Linked DNA regions of Homo sapiens: all the other regions are linked to region 3. Evidence: fine-mapped expression QTL. A gene starts in region 3. Each other region holds a variant in brackets. All regions are shown on one strand. Distances are between the middles of the regions. Region 1 has its middle 5.0 kb from the start of ZNF814. Region 2 overlaps C19orf18 (chromosome 19 open reading frame 18). Region 3 holds the start of ZNF606-AS1 (ZNF606 antisense RNA 1).

Region 1 (5,791 bases), 110 kb before region 3:
CCATGACAGTTTACAAATGCCATGGCAACATCAGGAAGTTATCCTATATGGTCTAAAAAAAGGAGGCATGAATAATCCACCCTTTGTTTAGGATATAATCAAGAAATAGGGGCCAGGCGCGGTGGCTCACGCCTGTAATCCCAGCACTTTGGGAGGCTGAGGTGGGTGGATCACAAGGTCAGGAGATCGAGACCATCCTGGCTAACACGGTGAAATCCTGTCTCTACTAAAAATACAAAAAATTAGCTGGGCGTGGTGGCGGGTGCCTGTAGTCCCAGCTACTTGGGAGGCTGAGGTAGGGGAACGGCGTGAACCCGGGAGGTGGAGCTTGCAGTGAGCCGAGATTGCACCACTGCACTCCAGCCTGGGTGACAGAGTGAGACTCCGCCTCAAAAAAAAAAAAAAATCAAGAAATAACCATAAAAATGGGCAGCCATGCCAGGCATGGTGGCTCACCCCTGGAATCCCAGCACTTTGGGAGACCAAGGTGGGAGGATCATGAGATCAGGAGATGGAGACCATCCTGGCTAACAACAGGGTGAAACCCAATCTCTACTAAAAATACGAAAAAATTAGCCGGGCGGCTCTGTCTATGGAGTACCCACTCTTTTATTCCTTTACTTTCTTTTCTTTTTTTTGAGCAGGAGTTTTGCTCTGTCACCCAGGCTGGAGTGCAGTGGCATGATCTCAGCTCACTGCAACCTCCACCTCCTGGGTTCGAGCAATTCTTCTGCCTCAGCATCCTGAGTACCTGGGACTACAGGTGCGCACCACTATGCCCGGCTAACTTTTGTATTTTTAGTATAAACACGGTTTCACTATGTTGGCCAGGCTGGTTTCAAGCTCCCAACCTTGTGATCTGCCCACCTCAGCCTCCCAAAGTGTTGGGATTACAGGCGTGAGCCACTGCACCCGGCCCAGACCAATGTATTTCTTTAATGTATTTGATTGATGTCTCTTGCCTCCTTAAAATGTATAAAACCAAGCTGCGCCCTGACCACCCTGGGCACATGTTCTCAGGACCTCTTGAGGGCTGTGTCACAGGCCATGGTCACTCATATTTGGCTCAGAATAAATCTCTTCACATAGTCTACAGAGTTTGACTCTTTTCATTGACACTGAAGAAACCCCCAACCCAGAGGAAAATCATCTGTGTGCACCACTTGGCTCACTTTGAGTGAGTGGGGTGCATATACCCAGATAAAGAATGAGATTGGTTTACAGGCCCAACTTGGTGGAGTTAGAGTCTCTCCTGGTTAAAGGCTCCTCTCAATAAAAGGCAAGGACACTTGACCAAACTTTGGTTCAATGCCCAAATTAGGAAGATTAGATTACTTCCTAAGAGTTAGGGGGTTAGAGGCCCCTCTCAGTAAAGTCCCTCTTGGCTAGGAATGGGTTTGGCACAATGGGCTGTTAACTGCTGTTCTCTTTGGAATAATCTGCCTTGCTGATGGCTATGGGTGACAGGACTAGGAATGTACAGGATCATGGGACATGGGGAGCTTTTTCCTCCCCAAAAGGGAAAACTTGCGAGCTGATGGGACTGCTGGAAAAGATCCCCTTGCTACTGACAAGCAGCCACCTGAACTTTTCAGTGTCACTGCAATGGGAGTGGGGGGGGCTTCTCTGGCCTCTCTAAGCTCCTGGCCTTCCCCACCCTGCCACAGGCAATGTTTTTCTCTGTCTCCTTTCCCTTTCTTATCTTTTCTGTTATTCAGGGTGACCATCTTGCCCAGAGACCAAGTTGAAACTCATGGTCGGAGGTTGGATTAAAGATGATGGGGCCCAACCAGGGCAAGTTTGAGCCTTGCCTGTTAGATATTCCAGGCGGAGCCGAGTGGCTAATGTGTATGTTTTGTCACACGTATTTTGCTCTGGCCAGAATGGAAAAAGATAATTTAGCTTTGTATTGCAGATTGGCCCCCAAGGGTGTGGTGCAGCCAGCTGGGTCACTAGAGGCTCTCAGGGAAAGGCAAACCAGAAGCCTGGAATGCTGGAATGCCAGCAAAAGGGTAAGAATTTCTTTTTTGTTATTGATTTTTTTTTTTTTTTTTTTTGGAGACGGAGTCTTGCACTGTCGCCCAGGCTGGAGTGCAGTGGTGTGATTTCGGCTCACTGCAACCTCCGCCTCCTGGGTTCAAACGATTCTCTTGCCTCAGCCTCCTGAGTAGGTGGGATTACAGGCACGCACCACCATGCCTAGTTAATTTTTGTATTTTTACTACAGACAAGGTTTCACCATGTTGGCCAGGCTGGTCTCCAACTCTTGACTTCAGGTGATCTGCCCGCCTGGGCCCCCCAAAGTGCTGGAATTACAGGCATGAGCCACTGCACCCAGCAAGAATTTCCTACCAGTCAGTTGGCTGGGTGTGGTGGCTCACACCTGTAATCCCAGCACTTTGGGAGGCAGAGGCAGGTGGATCACCTGAGGTCAGGAGTTCGACAACAGCCTGACCAACATGGTGAAACAACATCTCTACTAAAAATACAAAAAATTAGTCATGGCCGGGTGCGGGGGCTCATGCCTGTAATCCCAGCTCTTTGGGAGGCCGAGGTGGGCAGATCACTTGAGGCCAGGAGTTCGAGACCAACCTGGCCAACATGGTAAAACCCCGTCTCTACTAAAAATTGAAAAAATAAGCCGGGTGTGGTGGTGCATGCATGTAATCCCAGCTACTCGGGAGGCTGAGGCAGGAGAATCACTTAAACCTGGGAGGTGGAGATTGTAGTGAGCTGAGATTGCACCATTGCACTCCAGCGTGGGTGGCAGAGAGAGACCCCATCTCAAAAAAAAAAAAAAATTAGTCGTGCATGTTGGTGTGCACCTGTAATCCCAGCTTCTCGGGAGGCTGAGGCAGGAAATCACTTGAACCCAGGAGGTGGAGGTTACAGTGAGCTGAGATGGTGCCACTGCACTCCAGCCTGGGTGACAGAGCGAGACTCTGTCTCGAAAAAAAAAAAAGTCCAGGTGCAGTGGCTCATGCCTGTAACCCCAGCACTTTGGGCTGAAGTGAGGGGATCACGAGGTTAAGAGCTCAAGACTATCCTGGCCAGCATGGTGAAACCCCGTCTCTACTAAAAATACAAAAATTAGCTGGACATGGTGGCTGTAGTCCCAGCTGCTCAGGAGGCTGAGGCTGGAGAATTGCTTGAACCCAGGAGGTGGGGGTTGCAGGGAGCTGAGATCATGCCACTGCACTCCAGCCTGGCAACAGAGTGAGACTCCATCTCAAAAAAAAAAAAAAGAAGCCGATTTGCCCAAATCAAAGAAAGAAAAGAAGTGGGTTTTCTTATTTTGTTTCATTTTGTTTTTAGTCTGTAAATGAAACAAAACAGCAAGGAGAAAAGTCCCCTGATTTGTATCCTAGTGCTTCTTGATCACACCTAGTTGGCATAGCTGCAAAAAGCATAGCCGGCTGGGTGCAGTGGCTCACACCTGTAATCCCAGCA[C/T]TTTGGGAGGCTGAGACGGGCAGATCACGAGGTCAGGAGATCCAGACCATCCTGGCTAACACGGTGAAACCCCGTCTCTACTAAAAATACAAAAAAAAAAATTAGCCGGGCGTGGTGGCGGGTGCCTGTAGTCCCAGCTACTTGGGAGGCTGAGGCAGGAGAATGGCATGAACCTGGGAGGTGGAGCTTGCAGTGAGCCGAGATTGCACCACTGCACTCTAGCCTGGGCAACAGAGCGAGACTCCGTCTCAGAAAAAAAAAAAAAAAATCATAGCCACATCTATCTAATCTTATTGCTCATAGCTGTTAAATACCAAACCTGAATACGCAATTTTAGAAACGGAGCCTTCAATGCTTTTTGTTCCCAATGTTTCACAAGCAAATGGATGGAAATCAGAAGGCACACAGGGGAAGAGTATAATAAAAGCCCTAAGACAAGTTAAATGAAGTCCCCTGAAAATGACAGTGAAGCAGAGCAACCAAGAGATTGATTCATACAGCAAAGAGGACAAGACAGATTAATGCAAAGTTGACATCCTGTGGTGCCAAACCAGTTCTTAGCCAAGAGGGACTTTACTGAGAGGGGCCTCTAACTCTTAGGAAGGACTAAATCTTAGGAAGGACTCTAACCTTCCTAAATTGGGCCTCAAACCCAGGGTCAGTCAAGCCTCCTTGCCTTTTCTTTTCTTTTCTTTCTTTTTTTTTTTTTTGAGATGAAGTCTCACTCTGTTGCCCAGGCTGGAGTGCAGTGGTGCGATCTCGGCTCACTGCAACCTCTGCCTCCTGGGTTGAAGCAATTCTCTTGCCTCAGCCTCCCTAGTAGCTGGGATTACAGGTGTGTGCCACCACACCTGGCTGATTTGTGTATTTTTAGTAGAGATGGGTTTTCACCATGTTGGCCAGGCTGGTCTCGAACTCCTGGTCTCAGGCAATCCGCCCGCCTCGGCCTCCCAAAGTGCTGAAATTACAGGTGTGAGTCACCGCACCTGGCCACGTCCTTGCCTTTTATTGAGAGGAAACTTTAACCCTCTCTGTCTTAGGAGAGACTCTAACTCCCTAAGCTGGGCCTCTAACCCAATCTCATCCTTTACCCAGGTGCCCCACCACTTACCCAAAGTCGGCCAATTAGTGCTGCAGCCTATTTCCTTTGGGCCGGTGGGTTTCTTCAGTATCATCCCTTCAAGGTTCACCAGAAAGATGTTACCAGAAAGGGCGTCCCAATTCAGACCCCAAGAGAGGGTTCTTTGGATCTCACACAAGAAAGAATTCAGGGTGAGTCCACAGTGCAAAGAAAAGTAAATTTGTTAAGAGAGTAAAGTGATGACAGAATAGCCACTCCATAGACAGAGCAGGCTCTTCCCGAAAGTCAGAGGAGGAATGCGTCCACCCTAGGTACTTGTTTATACATAGTGTCAGGAATAACGCTCAAAATTTTAAGGAAATTGAACACTCGAACAAACGATTTTTAGCAAAGAAATTTTACGTTTGCACAGAGGGGTGCCTCTTTGGCCAGTCGCCATGAGAGCGCACCTGAAAAAAGGGGCACGAGAGCCTTTGAGCGAGCCACTTTTGTGAGCGAGACTCCATCTCAAAAAAAAAAAAAAAAAAAGAATTGGCAGAGATTTTAAAAAGGCTTATAAAGAAGGAGCCAAAATTCCAGTTTCTGATTGGTTGGTGTGGGCATTGATAAAGGCTGCTCTTGAGCCATTTCAAACAGATCACGAGACAGATTCAGATGAGGAAGACAAGTGTGTAAAAAACTAACTTCAGATTCTGAATGCGAGGAGCAAAAACCAGAGGAAATTAAGAAAGGGAAACTGAAAAGGGTATGTTTTACTAACCCATCAGCTCCACCTGCTGAATTAAGTGAATGGCCACCTCCTTTCCCTCCCCATAATGGGCGAGAAAATGAATTAGCTGTAAAATTTACTGCTCCTGTAGTTGCAACATTAAAATCTGGAGCAATTGGTGGTGCTATACAAAATTCTATTCAAAAGGCTAGAGCTGAGGGAGACCTTGAAGCATGGCAATTTCCTGTTACTATCACCCAGCAAGGAGGGAAAAATATAGCTAGTTGGGCCACATTTTCTTTTAAGCTATTAATGGAATTTAAGCAAGCCATTAGTCAATATGGGCCAAATTCTCCTTTTGTACAAACTTTACTAAAAAATGTGGCTCTGAATAATAGATTGATAAAATATGACTGGGATACTTTAACAAAATCTGTTCTCACTCTATCTCAGTACTTACAGTTTAAAACCCGGTGGGCTGATGAAGCTCAAACTCAGGCAAGGGAAAAAACACAAGCACAGCCATCTGTGCCTGTTTCCTTTCAACAGTT
Region 2 (5,791 bases), 39 kb before region 3:
TGTGAATATTTGTCTCTCTTACTTCAAACTCCCTTAACTCCCACTTATCTTTGCCTTTGAAAACCAAGCCACAGGCCAGGCGCGGTGGCTCACGCCTGTAATCCCAGCACTTTGGGAGGCCGAGGCGGGCGGATCACGAGGTCAGGAGATCGAGACCATCCTGGCACCCGAGCGTTGGTGGTATAGTGGTGAGCATAGCTGCCTTCCGAGACCATCCTGGCTAAAATGGTGAAACCCCGTCTCTACTAAAAATACAAAAAATTAGCCGGGCATGGTGGCGGGCGCCTGTACTCCCAGCTACTCGGGAGGCTGAGGCAGGAGAATGGCGTGAATCTGGGAGGCGGAGCTTGCAGTGAGCAGAGATCGCGCCACTGCACTCCAGCCTGGGCTACAGAGTAAGAGTCCGTCTTAAAAAAAAAATGAAAGAAAGAAAGGAAGGAAGAAAGAAAGAAAGGAAAGAAAGAAAGAAAAGAAATGCAAGCCACCGCTGAGAAAGAAAGAAAAGAAACGCAAGCTGCCGCTGCCAGCTTGGCTTTCCTGCGAATAGCTCTTACAGGTCACACTACCTGAGTGGATGAACTTTTCCAGCTCATTTTCGTTCTCTGGAAGTAGGTGCGTGGACTCACCCTCGTCCTCTGAGCCCTCTTCTTCATCTCCTAATAACGGTATCCTGAGGTTCTTATAAAGTGACTCGAGCTGTTGTCTTTCCTCAGCCTGTGCCAGTCGACTGGAGAATGATATAAATGAATTTAGAAGCACAGTTTTCATGATGAATAATTCATTTCTCAACCATGCCACTTTTTGACAGGAAAGGAGTCGCTTGTGGAGTGGGTGCAGACATAAGACTTTGAAACCAGACTAATCATGGTCAGCTCTCAACTGTCTACATGGTCAGGCCATTTCCTGGAGTAAGGAGTAACTCCGATCATCCCAAAGCATGGATCAAAGCCAGGACTAGACGTGAACAAGGCACTCACATTGGGTTCCAAACTTAAGGTGTTGACAAAAAATCCATAATCAAACAAATCATCTTTCTTTCCATTCCTTTCTCTTCTCTTTTTCTTTCTCTTTTTTTTCCTTTTTCTTTCTTCTTTCCTCTCTTTCCTTCCTCCCTCCCTTCTTTTCTTTCCTTTTTCTTTCCCTTTCTCTCTCTCTCTCCCTTTCTCTTTCCCTTTCTCTCTCTGTATCTCTCCCTTTCTCTTTCTCTCTCTCTTTCTCTCTTTGGAACAGGGTCTCATTCTGTCACCCAGGCTAGAAGTGAACTGATACAATCATGGTTCACTGCAGCTGCCAACTCCTGGGTTCAAACAGTCTTACCTGCTCAGCCTCCTAAGTAGCTGGGACCACAGGCTCGTGGCACCATGCCCGGCTAATTATTTTTGTATTTTTTTTTTTAGAAATTGCGTCTTGCTATGTTGCCCAGGATGGTCTCAAACTCCTAGGCTCAAGCTGTCTTTCCTCCTTGGCCTCCCAAAACACTGGAATTACAGGTGTGAGCCACTGTGCCCGGCCATAATCATGTTTCAGTGTAATATTTTACAAAATAAAAATTAATGTCAAGAAATCCGTGATGAACAAAATAGGACAGAATGGGTGTTACTGATTTTTCTACCTCACTGTAGGTCCAATCCTGGAAGTGGATCACTGAACAGCTATTTCTGTTTGGTGTGGAAATGGATGACAGTGTTTTCCTAACATACTTACCTTCCCAGTACTGTGTGAATTATATATTAAAAAAATACTTTTAGGGGCCAGGCGCGGTGGCTCACGCCAGTAATCCCAGCACTTTGGTAGGCCGAGGCGGGCAGATTACCTGAGGTCAGGAGTTGGAGGCCAGCCTGACCAACATGGAGAAACCCCGTCTGTACTAAAAAAATACAAAATTAGCAGGGCGTGGTGGCACATGCTTGTAATCCCAGCTACTTGGGAGGCTGAGGCAGGAGAATCACTTGAACCTGGGAGGCGGAGGTTGCAATGAGCTGAGATGGTGCCATTGCACTCCAGCCTGGCCAACAAGAGTGAAACTCCATCTCAAAAAAAAAAACAAAAAACTTTTAGGGTTAGTTTATTTTTTGTTTTTCTTGCTCAAAAGGCTGGGACAGGAGCAAGATTTGAGTGACAAAAGGGAGGTGCTCGCCTCAGTGCGAAATGTAAGGAGGTACCCCAAACAGTGAAAAATGAAGATGAGTATTTTAACTCAATTTTTTTTTTTTTTTTTGCAGATGGAGTTTCACTCTTTTTGCCCAGGCTGGAGTGCAATGGCGCGATCTTGGCTCACCACAACCTCCACCTCCCAGGTTCAAGTGATTCTCCTGTCTCAGCCTCCCGAGTAGCTGGGATTACAGGCATGTGCCACCATGCCTGGCTAATTTTTTTGTATTTTTAGTACAGATGGGGTTTCTCCATGTTGGTCAGGCTGGTCTCGAACTCCCAACCTCAGGTGACCCGCCCACCTCGGCCTCCCAAAGTGCTGGGATTACAGGCGTGAGCCACCGCGCCCGGTCCTTAACTCAGTATTTTTAAAAATTGAAATGAAGCAAAAAAAACAAAATCCAGGATATACCAAATATCAAGATTGTAAACAGAGATAGGATCCAAACAGTGCTGTGCTAAACCACAGGGGAGCTTGAGTCAAAAGGAAAGGTGTGAGTCCCTATACACGTTTTAATGTATTTTTAAA[T/C]GCTTATTCTTTTCCAAAACACTTAAGAAGTTCAGAATATATTTAATAATTGAAAACTGGTGTATGAAAAGTCACAACATTAAGTTTAAATATTTTATCTAGGCCAAGCACAGTGGCTCACGCCTGTAATCCCAGCACTTTGGGAGTCCGAGGCGGGCGGATCACGAGGTCAGGAGATTGAGACCATCCTGGGTAACATGGTGAAACCCCGTCTCTAATAAAAATACAAAAAAAAATTAGCCGGGCGTGGTGGCGGGTGCCTGTAGTCCCAGCTACTTGGGAGGCTGAGGCAGGAGAATGGCGTGAACCTGGGAGGCGGGGCTTGCAGTGAGCTGAGATGACGCCACTGCACTCCAGCCTGGGCAACAGAGCAAGACTCCGTCTCTAAAAAAATAAAAATAAAAATAAATATTTTATCTCTACCCTAAACAAAATTAATTGTAATTTTACTTTCCTGGTTTAAATAAAAGCAAACTTACCAATAGTATTTTCAAAATCTACTTCTGGAAAAAATGAACCACTAAAAATTACATAAAACTTGTACTTTTGAACAGGTGGTTTTGTTTTTTTTGTTTGTTTTCGTTTTGGTTTTGGTTTTGGCCCCAGGCTCCACTATAGCTTAGTGCTAATACAAATGTGAAAACAATAAGAATTGACTAGCTCAGCAACTCAATTCAACACTGAGTGTCCAGGAGATATGTTTTACTGAGTTGCATTACAAAACTTTATATTTATTAATAGTTTTGTTATAATAATGAAATATACAGAAGCTACAGTTACATAATTTTTGTTTTTGAGACATGGTCTCACTCTGTCGCCCAGGAGGAAGTGCAGTGGTGCAATCTCAGCTCACTACAACTTCCACCTCCAGGGCTCAAGCCATCCTCCCACCTCAGCCTCTTGAGTAGCTGGGACTACAGGTGCGTGCTACCACACCTGGCTAATTTTTGTATTTTTTGTATAGACGCGGTTTCACCATGTTGCCCACGCTGGTCTCAAACACCTGAGCTTAAGGGATCCACCCGCCTCGGCCTCCCAAAGTGTTGGGATCACAAGTGTGAGCCAATGCCCCCGGCCTATACATTTACATAAATTAAGCGGATGTAGTGGAGATAACCCACAACCAAGCACGCAGGTTACGCTCTCATTAGCAAAATTCCCCTTTTACCTTTAATGTCACTTTGCCTTCATGTGACCTACTCCAAGGTGGTCTTAACATAGCTGCCTCAGAAAATATCTCACACATGGCAATATATCTTGTTTTCACACTTAATTCAACGAAGCAAGCAATTTTGTACTTCTCAAGCTGTTTCTGGTGGGATACAATGGAATCCTAGCACGGAATCATACAGTAGGAGTCAGAATCTGTTGGTTTGGTCAGAACCGCATGAGATCACAGTGTGTCTCACCTTTTTCTACCGTGAATTTCAAAATGATTACATCACTCAAAACAGCTTGACCCCAAGCTTTATTTGCGAAGACGGTGATGTAACTTCCCCCAAAGCTGCTATCACCCCAGACTGCACTGACACATTTCTAGTGAAAGGGAGAGTGGTCGCTCTTTTCTGCTGTGCACTATTGAGATTCCTTCCAGAGTAGCAAGTTCTTTTTATTTTATTTATTTATTTATTTATTTATTTATTATTTGCGACAGAGTTTTGCTCTTGTCGCCCAGGCTGAATTGCAATGGCGTGATCTCTGCCCACTGCAACCTCTGCCTCCCAGGTTCAAGCAATTTTCCTGCCCCAGCCTCCCAAGTAGCTGGGATTACAGGTGCCCACCACTACGCCCAGCTAATTTTTGTATTTTTAGCAGAGACGGGGTTTCACTATATTGGCCAGGCTAGTCTTGAACTCCTGACCTCAGGTGATGTACCCGCCTCAGCCTCCCAGAGTGCTGGGATTACAGGCATGAGCCACCACACCCGGCCTCAAGTTTATTTTAAAATACCAAATTCTGGGGTCTGGGAATGGTGGCTCACACCTTTAATCCCAGCACTGGGAGGCCAAGGTAGGCGGATCACCTGAGGTCTGGAGTTCGAGACCAGCCTGACCAACATGGAGAAACCCCATCACTACTAAAAATACAAAATTAGCCTGGCATGGTGGCGTATGCCTGCAGTAATCCCAGCTACTTGGGAGGCTGAGGCAGGAGAATTGCTTGAACCCAGGAGGCAGAGGTTGCAGTGAACCAAGATCCATACCATTACACTCTAGCCTGGGCAACAAGAGCGAAACTCCGTCCCCTCCCCTCCAAAAAAAGTAGAAAAAATAAAATAAAATAAAATACTGAATTTTGGGAGGATGCTAGCATCTCAAACTGTGTCTTTCAAGCATTTTTGATCATGACTCCCAGTAAGAAATATATTTTATTTCACAACCGTGTGTCTGTGTGTGTGTGCATGTCTCACATGTATCTGAAAAGTTTAAAAATCAGCCTTTTACATTAATACTTTAAGTAATATTTTCTTTTCTTTTTCTTTTTTTTTTTTTCAGACGAGTCTCACTCTGTCACTCAGGCTGGAGTGCAGTGGCACGATCTCGGCTCACTGCAAGCTCCGCCTCCCGGGTTCACACCATTCTCCTGCCTCAGCCTCCCGAGGAGCCGGGACTACAGGCACCCGCCACCACGCCCGGCTAATTTTTTGTATTTTTAGTAGATACGGGGTTTCACCGTGTTAGCCAGGATGGTCTCGATCTCCTGACCTCATGATCCACCCGCCTCGGCCTTCCAAAGTGCTGGGATTACAAGCGTGAGCCACCATGCCCGGCGTAATATTTTCTAATATTTTCTATTCTGCTGAATTGTATTCTGTCCTGTGTCTTTCTTTCTTTTTTTTTCATGTGTATCATGCCTCAACATGAGTACAATCCACATGTTGAAAAACACTAATCTGGAAATTTATAATGACCAATACTTTAGCAATTATAAGATGTATCATCATCATCCTTTGACATTAAATAATAATCAGTTGACTTGTTATGTCTCATTTAAGGACAGCAGATATTACTTAGCAGATACTTACTATATCATATAGGAGATTGCCATCCCACATATCAGGGCAATGCTGAAGGCTACGCTCGAAATTAAAATTACTTTAACAAGAGCAGG
Region 3 (5,358 bases):
TTTCACCGTGTTAGCCAGGATGGTCTCGATCTCCTGACCTCGTGATCCACTCGCCTCGGCCTCCCAAAGTGCTGTAGGCGTGAGTCACCACGCCTGGCCACTAGTTTTCTGATTCCTCCTTGTTCCAGCTCTGCACAGAGACAGATCTGGACCACCTGCCCTAAAGCCCCACCTGGTCCCCATTCTATTCCCCAGCTGTGGCAGAGCACTACAGCCAGAGGCCACAATATGGCAGCCCACAGCTGACCAGGCTCTTGACTCACCCCAGGAGGCCCATGGGTCAACAGCTGTCATCCCCCAAGATTGGTCCGTAAGGGCACCTGCACAGAAGGATCAGGTTAGGACTGTGACACCAAACCTAGTGATTCAAGGCGACAAAATACAAGAGGAGGCTGACTCGCTAATGGGCACTACAAAATTCCATAAACAGAGCCCAAGGGTGTGTAAAAAAAATGCAACATAAGCTGGATTCACACAGGCAATGCACAGGTGAGTCACTATTAATTAACACCGTTTTAAAATTACCAACCAATGCTATATAAGTAAAAACAATAAAGGTAAAAATATATATGAGAGCAGTAGAGACAATATTTTATTATATGTATCACTGTTGTTTAGGAAACCCCACAAACCACCAGAAAAATCCCTTAAAACTAATGACACCTCTCAGGAGATGACTATAAAACATAAAAGTTAGTGTCTTTTATGCCAACAATTTTCCTCCTTTACCACCAATCAGTTCTAATTTTGTACCAAGATAGACAGACCCCCTTCCATCCTCAAAAGTCCTCAGCCCATCACCAGCTCTGACCCATGACTGCAGCAGCTAATGATAGGGGAGGCCCAGGAGAAACACAACTTGGACTCACCCCAGGAGGCCCACGGGTTGATGGCTGCCATCCCGAGGACTGATTGACCAGGCACCTGCCCAGGAACACAGCAAATCCCAACCTAGTGACAAAAGTGAAAAAAGACAAAACTAGTCCTTTCTCACAGAAGACCAAGTGGGAACAAAGAAGGGAATCCATCCACCGAAGCAACAAAAAAACTTGTAAGGAGCATCGTAAGAAAAGAGAATTTACATGTCAAAAAAGTAACACAATTCCTGGAGAGAAATGAAAGGTAATTTGCATAAGCTGGAAAAAAGAGCATGATCCTGAATGAGAGGGTACAAATTTGTCAGCTATTCCCAAGAGACAGCCAGTCACAACACAGATGGAACTTTTGGATTAATCTGACAATTATTGTAAAATCAACTTGCAATCCTCATATATTAGTGGTTGCCTAGAGCTGGGGGAAAAATGAAATGGGGAGTGACTGCTTAAGGGGAACAAGGGTTTCTTTGTGGGGTGATGAAATGTTCTAAAATTAGATAATGGGGATGATTGCACAACTTTATTAATATACAATAAAACCGGTGAATTGCACACTTTTAAGTGCTTAAAGTGAACATTATGTTATGCAAATTTAATCCCACCTCCAAAAAAAATTCACCTCCAAGATTTACTAAGCCTAAGCTTGTGTGTGTGTGGAGGACTTAGAGATGGGCCTGGCGCCCAGACCCCTAACTCCTCAGGTTCCAGATCTTTGTACAAGTCAGCAACCTCTCGAATGGATTCCTGGGTATGTGTATAAAGCACTAGAACACACAGTGGGCCTCAGGAGCACCGGAATCAGCGCGAAAACGCAGAATGCAAACCGTACTTTGCACCATTATTTGCAACTTGACAGTGACCGCCGCCGTCACTGCATGTTTAAGGGAACCCGGAGCTGTTTCCAACCCAGGTCTGACGTCCTTCACAGTGCTTTGTGTGAACTGGCAGGGGGAGAAACGACGGCTGGGGAACGAACGGGGTTATTCGTCCCATCAATGGCCTCAGAAGCATCCTTATCACCTGCTTCCAGAGCTCCCGACCCAAATTTCCTCCTCAAGACCGACGCGGCCGCGACGCTGCAAAAGCTCGTCCCGGCCTCACCTGGCTCGCGGCCGGCGGTCCCCCTTGAAGGCGGCGCAGCAGGATCGGGGTCTGCCCGCCTGGGGCGTTTGGCTTTTGTCCCGCGCCGAGGTCCGGCCCAGGAGTGCGCTTGGGAGCTCCCGGCGCGGCCTCGGGGACAAAGGCCCGCGGAGCCGACGTGCAGCAGAGTTCACCCAGGCCCGTCCGACCAGAAAACGAAGAACGCCCGGAGGCGGGAGGCCGGAGGCAGGCTGCTGGCTGGAGAACCGACGGCAACGACGGCGCAAAGCCGGCGCGGAAAGGGCAGGCGCAGGACCCACCCTGACGCCGCCTCTCCCAGCCGGCTCTCCTGACCCCCCAAGCCCCGCAGCTACGGCGGCCCCACAGCCTGAGCAAAGGCCTCACCTCAGCCGCGGACAATGGCGGCTGCTTCCCCGGCGTCGACCGGAGCGCGCCGCGGGGTCTGCTGGGAGCTGTAGTTCCAGGCGGGCACTTCCGGCGTCGGGCAGCGGCGCCGCCATGACAGGTTCCTGGGCCGCGCCGCCTCGCCCTGCCTGGGCGGGGTTGGGACCTTTCTGGCACCTGCGTCGAAGCCGGCGGCAGGATGGACTTTGTTGTCCCGGTCCCAGACCACCCTCCTCCACCGTCGCCTCCCACTGCAAAAAGGCCTGGGTAAGTCGCGGCCCCGCGGGCCTCGGTTTGCCCATCCGCAAAATGGCGCCTCGTGGTACCGGGTTTCCCGGGAGGAGCTCGGCGAGTTCTCAGCGCTCTCGAGGGATCCTTCCATTTGGCGTTCGCAAGATTGTGAGAAAGTGACTGCTGTTATTCTCTTTAAGATAAGGAACCTAATTCGAGCTACCCTTCTCTGTGAAGCTCGACGGCTGAGAACGTCAGGGCTCGTTCCCAAGTCTCTTTCCAGAGGCCAGGCTTTATGGGAGCATGGGTTACCAGCGACGCACCCTGTGAGTTTTCCTCTATCGATATGCATGGAGCGGTTCGGGAGCGGTGGCTCATTCCTGTAGTCCCAGCACTTCGGGAAGCTGTGGCGGGAGGATCAGTTGAGTTCAGGAGTTCGACACCACCCTGGGCAACATAGCGAGACCACATCTCTACAAAAAAAATACAAAAATTAGCCCGGTGTGATGGCGCGCGCCTGTAGTCCCCGCTACTTAGGAGGTTGCGGTGGAAGGATTGCTTGAGCCTGGGAGGTCAAGGTTGCAGTGAGCTATGATCGCACCACTGCACTTCAGCCTGGGCAACAGAGCAAGACCCGGCATTAAAACAAACAAAAACGGGCCGGGCGCGGTGGCTCACAGCTGTAATCCCAGCACTTTGGGAGGCCAAGGCAGGTGGATCGCCTGAGGTCAGGAGTTCCGAGACCAGTCTGGGCAACATGATAAAACCTCGTCTCTACTAAAAATACCAAAAATTAGCCGGGCTTGGTGGAGGGCACCTGTACCCAGCTACTTGGGAGGCTGAGGCAGGAGAATCGCTTGAACCCGGGAAGCGGAGGCTACAGTAAGCCGAGATCAAGCCATTGCACTCCAGCCTGGGCAGCAGGGCAAGACTCTGTCTCAAAAAAAGGGACTGAGGGACTGTAGGTGGTGATACCAAAGAAAGCATGGCCATTTAGGAAGCTAGACTTGAGTGAGCAGTGGGCAAGAGAGATTTTGAAGATATTTCCACTAGTAATGGAGGATCATTTTAAAAAGCTGGCCTGTGGGTTGGGCTTTTGTTGTTGGGTGGTGTTGGCACTCACTGTGGGTGGGCAAAGGGGAGTAGCCCTTTCAGAGGGAGAGGAAAAGTTCAAGTAGGACAGGCTGAATTCAAGGGAGAGGAAAATTTCAAGTAGGACAGGCTGAATTCGAGGGAGAGGACCATGAGAGAGGTAAGGTGGAAGGGGCAAGGTGTTGGGACAGGCCCCAGCTGGCAGGAAGGTGAACCCAGTCAGAGTGGGCACTGAGAGGAAAGCAATCTATGGATGGTACAGCCACAATTTCCATCTCAGGATCAAGCAGAGAAAGAGAGGCTGGAGAAGGAAGAGTGACAGAAGTAAGAAGAGAGTGTCTCTCCACTTCCACTCCAGCCCCCTACAGCTCATCCTCCAGCAGGCAGCCAAGGGCACTTTTAGGATCTCACATCAGGTCCTTGCCTCACATTCTGCACTGGCTTCCCAAGTAATTAAAGTAAAATCCAAATTCCAGCTCACAGCTTAGAAAACTCAGCAGGACTGGCCTCTGTCCTATCCCACACCCCACCTCAGTCCCTCAAGCTCATCTCCTGTCATTCCTGCCCATTTCTGGACCCCAGCCACTCCTCAAACAGGGTAAGTCCATTCCTGCTTCAGGGCCTTTGTACGTATTGTTTCCTCTTCCTGGAATCTTCTTCCTTGTACAGCCCCAGGGTTTTCTTTTTTTCATCCAGATCACAGCACAGATGTCACATCCTGGTAACAGCCAGCTGTGACTCATCTCCCTAATTCTCAATTGTATTACTCTCTTTTTATTTTCTTCGTATCGTAACTGATAGTCTCATACAGTACAGAAGCCAAGTTTTAAGATATGCAATCACCAAATACCTGCTACACAAACCTCAATGTTCATATAAAATAAGACTAGAATTCATATTCTAAAGAGAGATGAGGTAGCTCTGTTCACTTTTGAGAGGGAACTCAAATGAGAGAGATACCTTTGACCTAAAGGTGTCAGGAAACCAGATGAAGAAAAACACCCCTGCTATGATTTGAATGTTTTTATCCTCTCCAAAATTCATGTTGAAACTTACTCCCCAGTGCAGTAGTGTTGGGAGGCAGGGTCTAATGGGATTTATGGAGGTCATAAGGCTCTGCTGTCATGAATGGATTAATGTTGTAAACCAAAAAATAAAATTCTAAGCCCCCCACCCCCCAACCATATGAATAGACCCCTCCTCTCAGCCAAGGGCATTCCAAAGTTAATTTGAAAAATGAGTTCGGGCCATGATGGGAAGCAGAAGCTGGACTTGCCTCATTATACCCTCCTCCCTTCTAGAATTAGTGATAGAACAGACTCTTTAAGTCTGATAAGAAACATTTACAGTCTGTTATCTCCGGAGGTTTCATCTGCTTGGTAAAACCTTGAGTTCCACAACCCCAGACATTCCTTTCTATTGACAATAACTCTTTAAATCAATTGGCAATCAGAAATCTTTAAATCTGCCTATAACCTGGAAACTTTCTGTACCAGTATACATCTTATATGTATTGATTGATGTCTCATGTCTCCCTAAGATGTATAAAAGCAAGCTGAACCCTAACCACCCTGGGCATGTCCTCAGGATCTCCTGAGAGCTGCGTCAGGGGCCACTGGTCACCATATTTGGCTCAGAGTAAATCTCTTCAAATATTTTACAGAGTTTGACTCTT

The links. PIP is the estimated chance that this variant, and not a neighbour inherited with it, causes the effect. A credible set is the group of variants that fine-mapping cannot tell apart.
Region 1: its variant is the best candidate, but not a certain one, in a credible set for the expression of ZNF606-AS1 in minor salivary gland (GTEx, PIP 0.78).
Region 2: its variant is the best candidate, but not a certain one, in a credible set for the expression of ZNF606-AS1 in lung (TOPMed, PIP 0.66).

What each region holds. Positions count from the first base shown.
Region 1 is chr19:57,891,134-57,896,924 of GRCh38, forward strand. It overlaps a transcript of ZNF814 not described here. Among named protein-coding and RNA genes, the nearest start is that of ZNF814, 5.0 kb to the left of the region's middle. The variant C/T (reference allele first, on the strand shown) is at 3,451.
Region 2 is chr19:57,960,825-57,966,615 of GRCh38, forward strand. C19orf18 (chromosome 19 open reading frame 18) reads right to left here. Exons shown (of 6, transcript NM_152474.5): 4 at 5,706-5,791; 5 at 567-727. Among named protein-coding and RNA genes, the nearest start is that of C19orf18, 11 kb to the right of the region's middle. The variant T/C (reference allele first, on the strand shown) is at 2,681.
Region 3 is chr19:58,000,420-58,005,777 of GRCh38, forward strand. ZNF606-AS1 (ZNF606 antisense RNA 1) reads left to right here and starts at 2,475. Exons shown (of 4, transcript NR_036508.1): 1 at 2,475-2,627; 2 at 2,792-2,917; 3 at 3,964-4,281. ZNF606 (zinc finger protein 606) reads right to left here and starts at 2,401. Exons shown (of 7, transcript NM_001348022.3): 1 at 1,977-2,401; 2 at 870-951; 3 at 264-320. The coding sequence starts at 900. RefSeq lists an enhancer at 2,333-2,752.